Linked DNA regions of Homo sapiens: regions 1 and 3 are each reported to be linked to region 2. Evidence: microRNA targets listed by miRTarBase, many of them from high-throughput screens and not tested one by one. Region 2 holds a microRNA gene; each other region holds the end of a gene's coding sequence.
The links. The annotated mature microRNA hsa-miR-1267 reads CCUGUUGAAGUGUAAUCCCCA and lies in region 2 at 2,052-2,072, shown strand. An mRNA with a match to its seed (bases 2 to 7 or 8) in the 3' UTR can be bound and repressed. Matches are read on the target gene's strand: a 7mer-m8 pairs with bases 2 to 8, a 7mer-A1 pairs with bases 2 to 7 and ends in A, and an 8mer does both.

Region 1 (4,243 bases), not on the chromosome of region 2:
GGGGTGTGCTCTGGCCGAGTGCACAGACCGTGCGTGCCGCCACAACACCGGGCTGCAGAGCAAACGCGGTTCAGGTGGGAGCTTGTGAAGCTCTGCCTGGATTTTTAGCAAAATAGACAGTAGTTGAGAATGCGGATGGAGGTGGTGGTGGTGGTGGTGTAAGGAGACAAGGTATGAAAAACATCAGAGAGCTGTGGAGCCAATGGCTAGACATACATGTATTGACAGCATTAAATACCTGCTTGTGATCATGAATTGAAATACAACAATTACACAGGGTTGCGTGCTTTTCTCCAGCCGTGTTTATTTGCAAAGGAACAGGCAAGTAGGCAAAAAGCTGGACTTCACCGGTGTGTTTTAGCCAAGAATTAGAAGGAAAGCACCACAGGACAATGTGAGCAAGCCAGGAGCTACCATCTGCAAGGAGGAATCGGAGCTCGGGGAGCATAAAGTGGCAAAGGGAGGGGGAGCGGCTGACATGATCTGATCAAAGTAGATTCAAAGCCGAGTGGTTTCTTTTTTGCGGGGGTCGGGGTGTCTGGAAATATCAGTGAGGAGCAAGAGGGACACCTACCTCACCCTCCAGACCTTGGCAGACGAGAAGTGTAGGAGAGACAACAGCAGCACTGTGAGTGACCCGGGAGAAAGCCGAGTTTGTTAAAGGGAGATGTAAAGAAACCGCCCCTAAGAGGCTGTTGAGAATGAGCTCCAGAGGACACAGGAAAAGTTGAGGAGCAGGGGATGGTGTCAAAAAAGAGACTGCAAAGAGCTCCTCAGAGATGAGCCTGAAATACGAGGGATCACCTGGAGCTTTGGGCTTGTGGGAAGAGCCCAGGGATGGGGCATGCCACTGGTCGTGGGGTTCCCAGGCATGAGAGTGGGAAGGCTGCGATGGACGAGGGCAGAGCGCTGGACTCCGCAGTGCAGAGTTCTAGGTGCCCACTTGAGTTCTGGCAGCACAGGGTGCTTGAAGGGCAGCTTAACTCAGAGTGTAGAGGCCATGGAGCCTCCTTTGAATGGTGGCCTAGAGAGAAGAGTCATCTTACTCCAAGTGCAGGGACTCCCTCCTGACTACTCTTGAAAATTTTACAGTTTCTCTATTGTACACAATGGATTTTTAAAATCATTGGGTAGTAATAATGAAGGTAAAGAAAATTAAACCTAGCTTTTGAAATCTTGTATCTGAATGACAATACCAATTACACAAACTTTAAGCTTTTACTTAGAAATGTACGAAATATCTGAAGACTCGTATCATAGTATCAGAATGAAACTGCTGTTGAAAATACTTTCTATTTGACTCTGAGGAGAGAGCCAGAGCCGTCACTGTGTGTAAGCAGCAGGTTCAGGAGATTACTCCAAAAAACTCCTGTAGGACTTAGGGAATGCGTGTAAAATTGCTAAATAGAATGCTTCAATGAGTGTCACATTTTTGAATTTTGAAGGAAAATGTACCCAGAAAAGAGTGGACAGACTTCCTACAGGCATGCACTTTTGGGGAACCACCCACCAAATCCCTGGGGTTCCTTCAGGAACCACCAGGTAGACTGGTCAGACGAAGCTTTGGGAAGGGACAGCCTGAGGTCAGTGTGTTTAACACTAAAGCTTTTGGACATCCCACTCAGATACGCACATCCCACGTGAAAGGAGAAATTGGGATTTCACGGAGTCTTTGCTTTGTTCTTTGTGAGTGCGGCAGTGAATTCTCTGACAGTGCTCCGTGTACTCGGTGTGGCTCAGACATCAACCTAGTCTCTGTCGCCGCATGCAACAGGTTTGTCTGATGAAAACCACAGCAGAGGCATAACCAAGACGATGTTAAGGAGACCCCTTTCAACTAGCATTTGCCAAAAGTCCCTGGCAAATCACCTGGGACTTGTTTAATAGACTGTTCACCTGGCCTCTCCCCTGAGAGTCCCGATTCCTAGGTACAGTTTGGAACCCAGTCTGTGTTATCACAAACCCAACCAGGTGATGTCTAACAGATTAGTAAATTTGGGAAGTGTTACCTAGGATGATGACAAAACCAAGCAATACCCTTTTTTGGCTTAAAATAACTTCAGCCAGTTTTCTGTCCCTTTCAACTAAGTCTTTCTTGATATAGTGGGGTCTCTGGACACCTGCAACTTTTCCACAATTATCACATTTACCAATTTTTCACGGTTCTAAAGACATTAAATTCAACTTTCACTTTGAGGCAGAGCTGAGACCTGCTAAGAATGAGCTTTTCATGACTTAACTAACTGACTAGCCACCAAAATCCATAAATAAATTAATATTTTCCAGTCGTATGATTAGACTTCCTTATATTCCTTAATGCTAGGACAACCTTAAGCAACTTCTACCATTGAAATGTTTGTCTCTGGCCTCCTTTTGAAGGTCACACTGTTCTGTGTTTCTTGTCTTCTCATGCTTAGAAATCGAACAGGTTAAGGAACCTGGGCTGCTTGCCCAGAACAATGTTAACAACAATTATTAGCTCTAAGAACTAAAAGGAAAATAAAATGGTTTTCATTCATAATATGTTAATGAGGCTAAATTCAGAATGAGACCGTGTGCCACAAAGGTAAGACAAATGACTTGAGTGATCTGCGTTAGTTTAAATTACAGTTCCAGGGACTTGTGTATTGTCATTAAAGCTTACACTCATCACATTTGTAAGCAATGTTTAAAGGTGTTCCCGGGATTTACAATAATTCATTAATTTTAAGCCTTCTCTTTGCAAACGTTCCTGAGAATTCCTATAAATATGTAGATATAAAAAACTACAATTACCAACTTCACAACACCACAGACTTCTTAGTCTGTGCTTCCTTATAAGCTGTGGATACCCGTTCTTATACTACAAATATTGGAGGTGGCAGCATTTCCTTAAAAAATTTTACTCTGACATTAGAGTTCGTAAGAGACACTAATTGAGCTTTTTTTTTTTTTTTTTTTTTTTTTTTTTTTTTTTTTTTTTTGAGACGGAGTCTCACTCTGTTGCCCAGGCTGGAGTGCAGTGGCGTGATCTCTGCTCACTGCAACCTCCGCCTCTCAGGTTCAAGTGATTCTCCTGCCTCAGCCTCCTGGCACCACATCTGGCTAATTTTGTATTTTTAGTAGAGATGGGGTTTCACCATGTTGGTCAGGCTAATTTAGCTTTTATGAATGGAATTGTATGCACTTTTAAAAATTAAATGAAAAGAAAACGCACATACTTTCAGTAAAACAAGAATTACAGTTATTCAAATAAGGTGACAATCACATCAATTTTATTTTATAACAAATAGAATCATGTCCCAGTTCCAAAACAAAATAAATAGTAATGTTAATATAGAGATTTACTCATGGCCTTTTTTGTTAAAGAGTCTTAAAATGTTTCTTTGGACAATTTAAAAATTTTCAATGTTTTTTTTACTCCCATACAACCTAGCCCCCCTGCCAAATAAAAATCAAGCATATTTTCTCCTGTATCTTGTGTATAGGTTATATAATAGTACCTTTTATCTTTAAGATATGAGCTGAAACCCCACCTATGGTTGTAGTGAGCATCCTACTTTACGCCTCTTATCTCCTTTAAATTCAAAACAGGTATCTCAAAAATAAAGTTAATATAGGTTTATAAGTAGGACTTGCTCACTCCTGAAAGTACGTTTAAGTAAATCTCCAAACACATTTCAAATACTCTCAGAGAGTCTGTTTTATACTACCAAGTATCTTATCCACATTTCTTCAAAATAAACAAAAAAATGCTCACAAAATATCTATGAGAAACAAGAAGATAAAATATAAAATCTTAATTTTTACGTATAAAATAAGGAAGCCGGTGAATAGCAATGCTAGAAATAAAATGCTAGATCTCCTAATCCCCTTCCCAAGTTTCATCCAGAAAGATAACAGTTAAAAAAAAAGTAAATAAAAGCTTAAAAAAATCCCAAAGTCATTTCAAAAAGAAAAGCGGCTGCATCGTCTTCTGCAGGTTAGAGGTAGTAAAGGCGGTTTGACAGTGACAGATTTGGCTCTCTGTGAATACTCTGGCCAACAAGAAAAGCCAGCTTGTGGGCGTACTGGCAAGGAGCAGGAACACGAATGACACCCTTTAGTGGAAGGAAAAAAAGGTTCTATTACTCTAGACTTAGCCTCTTTCAATTGCAAATCTCAGTATTAACCCTAAAAGCCTTTTAAACCACAGCTATTTCATTTTGAAAAGTGAATGTCCTTTATTTGCTAAACATCAACAAGTAGAAGCACTTACTGGCCA
Region 2 (4,245 bases):
TCAAACCATAGCAAAGAACCTACACTCACGTAATTATAGCACTCTGCATTTCAAATGTGTAAATTTCTATAAATGTTTCTAACAGTCACTTTACAAACAAAATATGTAAAACAGAGAAAAAAGAAAGGGGCAAAACTGAGCCTCATTAAAAGTTATGGTTATAACTCTCTTTTCGTGGGGATATTAATTTTAGTAGAATGAGTTAAATAAAAGTTTAAGTCAAAAAGAGAGGCAACAGCTGCCTCCAGTCAAAGTGTCTGGTTTCTAAATGATGTTTTAAATTTCCAGCTTAGCATGTATTCTTAATTTTTATATCATTTTTAATATGTTAATGGCTACTGTTTTTAGGTTGTTTTCTTAACAGTTCTGCAACTACCTTTAAGATGTTTTTTGAAGTCTAGGTGGCAATATTTTGTCTTCAGTTAATATAATTGCAATATTACGTTAGAAACTAGCACAAAATTATATTCCTGAATAATCTCTAAATTGCTAACTTTTCAGGGATTTATATTTTCTGAAAATTAACATTCTTGAGAATTTCATTAATGTCCCAGGCAAATCACATAAATGGACCAAACACATGAGACAGAAAAATTAAAGTTGAAATGAGGTCTATAAGAGATTCTCAAATATTTGAAATACCTCAAGTCAAAAGATATGAGTATATAAAAACTTCATGTAATATAATTTGATTAATTTTCCAGTAGTTTATGGAGTATGATTTTGGACTATACCACACTGTAAGCCTTAGGTTTTGTAATAACCTGAACTCTTGATATTTAAGAAGATAAATTTCATGTTTGTTGATGAGGAAGCACACACCACTAGAATGAACGCTTATTGGAAAAGCATTGTAACACTGAGAAAACACTAGCAATGAATGATTTTTCTTCATAGAGAAAGGAAGCAGCAAAACAGTCCATAATGAGAGCTCAGCCAAGGGAAACAAAAATCATTGAAATTTCTTAATAGATTCTTTAATACTGATTATTAGATAGAAGCATGTTTTACACTGTGGGAATCCATAAGATTTCAAAGAAAAAGATGCTGTTTTACTTTAAAATGTTGACCTTGAAAGGCTGTAGCTTTTTAAACTCTACTTTTGTTCACTTTCTTTCTCTTTCATTTTGTTCTTGGTTGTCTGCAAGAAACTTGGAGGAGAACCTAGCACATCAAAGGATTTAGTATACAAAAGGGTAGCTTGTAAGTCAGTTAAGAAACAAAGCATTTTCTATTAAATGCTTCTAGGATAACTCACTATTTGAGAGAAAATTTTCAAGTTAGGTAAGTATGCAAATTCAGCTGCGTTATGAACTTGATTGTGAAAAAGCCATGTTAGTCATCTAGAAAACAAATACGTAAATAGAAGATTGCAAAATGGCAGAGAAGTTTATAAGCATAAAATTAATTTTTAAAAATTCTAAGGGGAGTATCAGTAGATAATACTTCACATGACACAAAACTTTGGCATATCTAACACCATCATAAAAAAGATGCAAATGAGAAGCTGGAAAAATTACTTGCAACACGTATTCCAGTCAAACAACAACAAAAGAAGATGAGCATACTGAGATAAAAGTGGAAAAAAATACAGACAGACAACTCATAAAATGAAAAAAATACAAACATTTAATGTGAGTTTAACTAAAATGTACTGGTTTTGATGTTGAATAAACTGGGAAAATTAATAAGATAATATTGATGATTAGTGTCACTGATTATATTAGACCATTCTTGCATTGCTATAAAGGAATACCTGTGATTGCATAATTTATAAAACAAAGAGGTTTAATTGGCTCATGATTCTTCAGGCTTTATAGGACCCATGGTTCTGGCATCTGCTCGGCTTCTGGGGAGTCCTCAGGAGCTTACAATCATGGTGAAAGGTGAAGAAGGAACAGTCTTTGTCACGTGACCAGAGCCAGAACAAAAGAGAGAGAGTTGGGGGTAAGGTGCCATACACTCAGAAGAAGAGCTCACTCATCACCAAGAGGATGGCCCAAGCTATTCATGAGGGATCTGCCTCCGTGATCCAAATACCTCCCAAATCTCCTGTTGAAGTGTAATCCCCACCTCCAGCATTGGGGATTACATTTCAACATGAGATTTGGATGAGGACAAATATCCGGACTCCATCAGTGGTCAAGAACTTTTTATTTCTGGAGAGCTATGTTAAAATATATGTTAAAAGTCCATCCTCTTTAGTTCTGTAATTCCTAATATAGGAATGCATCCTAATAAAATATCTCAGATGTATATATATATATATATGTGAATGACAATGTTCAGCAGAGTTCTTTTTTAGGGTACAAAGACTATCCCTTTAACAGTTTTTACATAACTAAAATGTTTCCACTAAAAATCACAATAAAAATCGTCAGTGTTCTTTTCACATTTCAGGCAATCCTGCTGGTTTTCATATTATTTTTAAAACTTTATAAGGAGAATGGTGAAAATAGTTCATATATAACTTAGATGCTTGTTCTTTCTATATTGTCAGCTGCTTTTCACAAATGATTAGCCTCAGCTCTGGACAGATTTCAGCTTACATCAATATGATGTAAGTGATACTATGTTTTCTCTATAGCTGTGGTGATTTGCAATATTATTTTTGCCTCCTATTTGTCATGTAGTACCTGCTGGGCTGCCTCAACAGATAGTATTTGTACAATGGCATTTTTGTGTGGAATGAGTCCATCTTCTGCATACATCCACATGTTATGAATATACTAAAATGATCACAGGTCATACATAAAAATCTTGTCATTTAAAAAAAATCTTACAAATATTAAATTTAGAGGAATGTCTTAGATTTTGCTTCAGTCTATATGGATATACTTCATTCATTCAGCAAGTAATTTGCTGAGCACTTACTATGTATGATGTTTTCATGGCTCTGGGGATATAGTAGATGATCAAGTAGCTTAAAAGTATCCATGCTAGTGGTGGATATAGGTAGTAAATAGGAAACAAATATAAAAATAATTATGGATTGGGATATATGCTATGAAGTAAACAAAGGCAGACTATCTTGCTAGGATGGAGGTTTTGTCTTTGGACAGAGCTTTTAGGCCTCCTTAAGTAGATGACTGAGCTATAAAGCATAAGACTGAGCCTGCCTCATTAATAGGCAGGAGAGAGTGTCCCAGGGTGGAGAGAGAACAAGGTAAAGGTGCCCAGGTGGGGATTTGAGGGTTGGAGCTAAGGGAGCCCATATTGCTGAATAAGAGTGAGCTGTGGAAAGAAGGCATGAGTTAGCTATAGAACCCTTGCTTCTTATTCTTACTCTTGGGTATTAACAGTCATCTTCCTCTTGAAAGCTGAGAATAGCAGTTTAGGCAGATTGTGAGTTTGGCTTTGGTTCTTTATGGAAAGATACCTTGGAGTCCCATGGCCACTAGATGAAGGGATGTCAAGCATTGTAACTAGCCAACTGCATCCCTACCATGGATAGTTTCCAACATTCTGTTGCTCTTAGAAAGTCCTGAGACATCATCCTTTCCTTCAGGTGATGCCCGTTCCTCTCTCACATGGCAGTCAGAGCTTACGGAAGATCTAAAAAAAGGAAAAAGATGTAATTAATTCATCACATCTTCCAATCATCACACACACATTGCAATGGGAGCCAAGCTGGTGAATGGTTGGCTACTGTCCTGCGGGGCCATCTTGGAAGAGCTGGAAGTCAGCCTTGCTGGCCTTTTATCTGGAAGTCCAGATTAGACCACTGAATTGCACACATCTAGGACATATAGTGTGAATATTGAGGGTTGTATGAAAAGTCAAAAGCAGAAAGTTTGAGGAACATCTAAGATTACCAAATAATTTGCTGTTTCATTAATGTACTTTGCTTGCTTAAATCTCCGTTTTCAAATTCCCTTTCTGCCATCTGGGGCATTCTCTTTCCTGACTGCCTACCCAATTGCTACTCATCTTTTTTATCTGAAGGCCTGGATCGGTGAAGTGATTCTGAAAGTCATACAACTTGTTAATACCAGAGCTATGGTCTCGTTTCTCTGCTCTTGAATAATTATTCACTATGCAGGTATTCACCCATTCCTTCACTTGCTGAGAGTCAGCCAGCCATATGCTAAGCACTGAGAGAACTAACATGGTTAAGACAAAGTCTCCAGCATTAGGCTTCTCTCTCTCTGGTGGGAAGATCTTGTTAAGCAAATGAAATAGAACATAAATGAATGGATAAAGCTCTGGTCAGGGTGCCGTGGGAAAACAGAGGTGAGACTGAGT
Region 3 (4,208 bases), not on the chromosome of region 2:
TTTGTAGACATAATGATATTATTTGGGATAATATGTAATATTACATGTATATTACTTGGAATAATATGCAGTATCATATTAAAACATACAATATTATTTGGCGAAAGATATACAGGAAACAAGATTCTCTATGGGTTGGTAATTGTTAAAACTGAGTAATAGGAACACCAAGGTCATTACACAATTCTATTTTTATATATGCTTGAAATTTTTCATAATAAAGAGATAAAGAAAACAGCAACAAGAAAAGTGAACTACGGGCAACTCATAAAAGAAGAAATAGCAACAACCAACATGAAAAAGAAATAAAAAATAATTTTACTTTAGAAGAAATCTTAAAAATGCAAGTTTCTTAAAAGGTGAGGTTTCATTTTTCACGTATCACGTGGCCAAAACATTGAAAGATTAATGATATCCCTGGTAGCAAGGGAATGCAAAAACTAGCTTTCTTGTGTGCTCCAAACACTAGTAGACTAAATTGGCTCCAGTTTTCTGGAAAGCATTTGGCAATATGTAACAAAAGTACATGGGGAAAGGAGCTAGAGTGCCAGGGCCAGGCTGCCAAAGTCAGATTGCAGTCACACCACTCACTGGTGGCAGGACCCAAAACAAGTTTCTTAGCTGCTGTGTACCTCAATTCCTAGCCCATGAAATGCATGTACTATAATAGTGGCATCCATCTCAAGGGCTGCTGTGAGGCTAAATCATAATATTGGTACCAAACTTGGACCAGTGCCTGGCATATGGTGCTGGCTTTCATTATTATGTTGGCCCAGCAACCTCACTTCTAAGAATTTATTTTAAGGAAATCTTAATCAAGTGCACAAAGACACATATACACATTTTTTTAATCACTTCATGATTTATAAAATGCAAAAAGTAGAAATGTCTGGTTAAAAAAACTTTTGTAATCTTTGCCTGGAATACGAGGTGGCCATTATATATAACTGTCTTATATTTATACGTACTGACATGTACATGTGTACTGATATAAAGACATTTGTAATCTGTTTTCCAGGAGAAAATCAAGCTAGAGAAGAATATAGTTGAACCCTAGGAAGGAGTTTTTTTTTTCACCAGTGCATGTACATCTAGATGTTAACAATAATTGACTGAATTTGTGGGTTATATTCTTTTTGATTATCTGTATTTTCTAATTTTTCTGTATCAACCTTATCATTTGTCTAATTTTTAAATGATCTGTTACATACGTTCCACAGTTCTGGCAAATCTTGTGCTGGTTAATTTTAGTTCAATTTAATGAGAGCAAGAGATACCTGGACAGCTGTGAAGCATTACTTCTGAGTAGGTCTGAGAAGGTGCTTCCAGAAGAGATTAGCATTTGAATCAGTAAACTGAGTGAGGAAAATCTGCCCTCTCCCATTGTGGGGGACACCATCCAATCTGCTGCCAGCCTATATAGAAAGGCTTTCTCTCTGGAGTTGGGACACCCAGCTTCTGTCCTTGGATGTCAGAACTCCAGGTTCTCAGGCCCCAGGACCTGCACCAACAGTCCCAGGTTCTCCGGCTTTCGGATTTAGACTGAGCCACTCTACCAGCTTCCTTCATTCTCCAGTTTGCAGACAGCCTATGCCGTGATCACATCAGCTAATTCCCTTAATAAATCCCCTGTCATTTATTAGGGAAACTGGCTAATAAATACCCATAAGTATCTATCTATCCATATATCCTACTAGTTCTGTTTCTATTGAGACCTAATACAACTTACTAAAGAATTTTAAAATATATTTGAAAATGGGAAGGGGTGAACACAGCATAGAAACACCAAAGTAATACGTTAGTCAAACCCTCCAAAGTAGATAGAAAAACCCATTTGGAAACATATAACGTAATGATGAACATTCAAGAACAGAGACATTCTCATTGATAATCATCACCAGTGTGTGCACACAAGTCCAAACACATTTACTGTTTACATTTGCATTCCCCCAAAAGTGGAGCTAGAAACAAGGACTTGGGTGCAGATTAATTTACCTCAGAGGTGCTCATAAGAGAAAGAAGTAAGGGAGTGAGAAAAATGAAACAGAAAAGAGGAAGGCCGATGAACTATGCATTAATAATAGTAACTGCATACTAGTGAGAACTAGCACTCAATCCCACAAGGGACTCTGAGAAACTGTGCAGAATAAAACTCAGAGGTGCCCCACAGAAGCACAGGAAGCCTGGAGCAATTACTCATCAACTCCCATCCCATCAAGATTGTGGGCTGATCTGGTAGCATCAGCTCTCCAGCTCTCCTGAGCTTCCTCATTGAGCAGCTTCCTTTGTACGACAACACCCCCAGCCTGCCCCCTCCCCCAGCTACCCTACTCCACCACCAGACCCCTTTTGCTCCCTGCAGTGTGTTTCCTCCATCACCTTCCTACGAGAACTTCAAGGCCTCTCCAGGTGTCAGGACCACCCAAAGGTCAAAGGAAGTCTGGGTGAGTTGGAGGTGGTAATAGATGAAACAAGATTGACCTTGAGTTGAGCTGATAATATTTGAAGCCCAGTGATGAGCACATGGGTTCATCACACTATTCCCTTTACTCATATATGTGTTTGAAACTTTCCATAACAAAAAGTTAAAAATAGATCTTTGCTGTGTCAGGGATGGAGGTTCTTTGCTAGGTCTCCCTTTCAGGAAAAAAAAAAAAAAATGCCACTCAACCAGGAGAAATGAAATTGACTGACAGGTTCACTCCAAGGTTCACTCCAGCTTTCAAGTCAAGGTCTCATTCAGTCTGGGCCACCCCAGCCAATGGCCAAGTGCAGTGCAGGCATGAGAGCCTGGCCATTTCTGCACAATGGGGACTCCCAAGTGGGCAGTTCTTGCTCAGGAGCTCCCCACTGGGTCAGTGGAGACCTTGTCAACACATCAATGCCCTGAGTTCTCCTGGCTCCTCCAGCTTCCTTCTCTCTTTCTGTTCACAGTGGTCAGGTGTGCATTGCAGTCTGCGGCCTTTCCCCACTGGATCCTACCTCCACCTCCTTTTCTTTCCCAAGTGCAGCTCCTCAATAACTCCATCTTGGCAACCATGTCCCAAAAGACCTAAACTGACACAATTAAGATGCAGTTGCTTCCTTCCCTCCCAACCCCCTGAAAGCTCCAAAAATAATGAAATACATACCAGAGTTAAAAACATTGTACTATATTTAAATGTTTGCATATAATATATTAATGTTTTTCACACTAAAAATATACAATGGCTATGTATAAAACCTGATTTTGGAAATAATATCAAAAATTACACGTGTGGTCCTTTGGGGATACAAGGTCCAGCCAAGTGGCCATCCTCCCTTCCCACCCATGAGTAGGCCTGCCACATATCACAACCCTGGGAAACTCTCCAGGATCACCCAGGCTGGGATAGATGGCCTCTCATATGCTCCCCATAACACCCTGTTCTCTGTCACTAGATTACTACCTTGTGCTGGCACTGGCTGTAAACATTCTGCCCCAGCCTCTGCCTGCACCCTAACTCAGTAGTGAGAGGCTAGAGAGCCTGGCGCAGAGTAGGTAGGCACTCAGTAAATAATTTTGGATCAATCACTGAATGACTGACTGAGGCATATGTCCCCAAAAGGACCCCAGATAGGAACCATCTCCACAGTGTTCCTGCAGTTTTATAAAAGGCTTGGGAAAAGAGAGTTAGTGACTCTTTTCAGTCTTGGGGGGATGTGGAGGTAGAGGAAGAAAACTACCTGGAGGTTCTATTTTAACCCTTTCTCAAGCCTGGGGACCTAGGGGCTCCTAGTCAGGCACCTGTGGCCATCTACAGCAGGGCCCCTCACAGGTCAGGAGGGATGAGATCATATCCATTCCCTGCACTGCTTCTCTCCAAGAGGATGATCTCTTGGTTGTTTGTGAAGACAAGAGGCCCAGCAGCCTCTTCTGTTGAAGTGGACCTGAGCTGGCCCCAGCCAGGCTAACCCTCTAGCCAGCTAGCTTCTGGGGTGAATCACCAGGCAGGGACCCTGGGTTGGCCAGAGCTCTGTGGACCAGTGCCAAACTTCTCTGGGAGCTTTGAGCGAGACAAGGGCTTGGGTTTCTCTCTCTGGTCCAGGTCCAGAGGAAGATCTTCCAAGGAGGAGATCTCCAAGTCACTCTCATCTTCAGAAAGCTGCAGGGGGTAAAGGGGAGAAGAAAATGCATTTTGATAAGGGAGGAGGGTGGCTGAGAGCTAAGCACATTGCAGGATGGGAAT

Region 1: the mRNA of PIWIL1 is a reported target of hsa-miR-1267. Seed matches in the 3' UTR shown: 7mer-A1 at 2,979-2,985.
Region 3: the mRNA of DZIP1L is a reported target of hsa-miR-1267. Seed matches in the 3' UTR shown: 8mer at 3,895-3,902.

The regions. Positions count from the first base shown.
Region 1 is chr12:130,371,318-130,375,560 of GRCh38, reverse strand. It overlaps PIWIL1 (piwi like RNA-mediated gene silencing 1), which reads right to left. Exons shown (of 21, transcript NM_004764.5): 20 at 4,238-4,243; 21 at 2,924-4,079. The coding sequence ends at 3,963. Among named protein-coding and RNA genes, the nearest start is that of PIWIL1, 36 kb to the right of the region's middle.
Region 2 is chr13:107,529,044-107,533,288 of GRCh38, reverse strand. MIR1267 (microRNA 1267) reads left to right here and starts at 2,041; the gene lies at 2,041-2,118. All of the region lies in intron 1 of NALF1 (NALCN channel auxiliary factor 1), which reads left to right. It overlaps LOC112268110 (a long non-coding RNA gene), which reads left to right. Exons shown (of 3, transcript XR_002957493.2): 1 at 1-4,245.
Region 3 is chr3:138,058,854-138,063,061 of GRCh38, forward strand. It overlaps DZIP1L (DAZ interacting zinc finger protein 1 like), which reads right to left. Exons shown (of 16, transcript NM_173543.3): 16 at 3,137-4,124. The coding sequence ends at 3,963. Among named protein-coding and RNA genes, the nearest start is that of CLDN18, 51 kb to the left of the region's middle.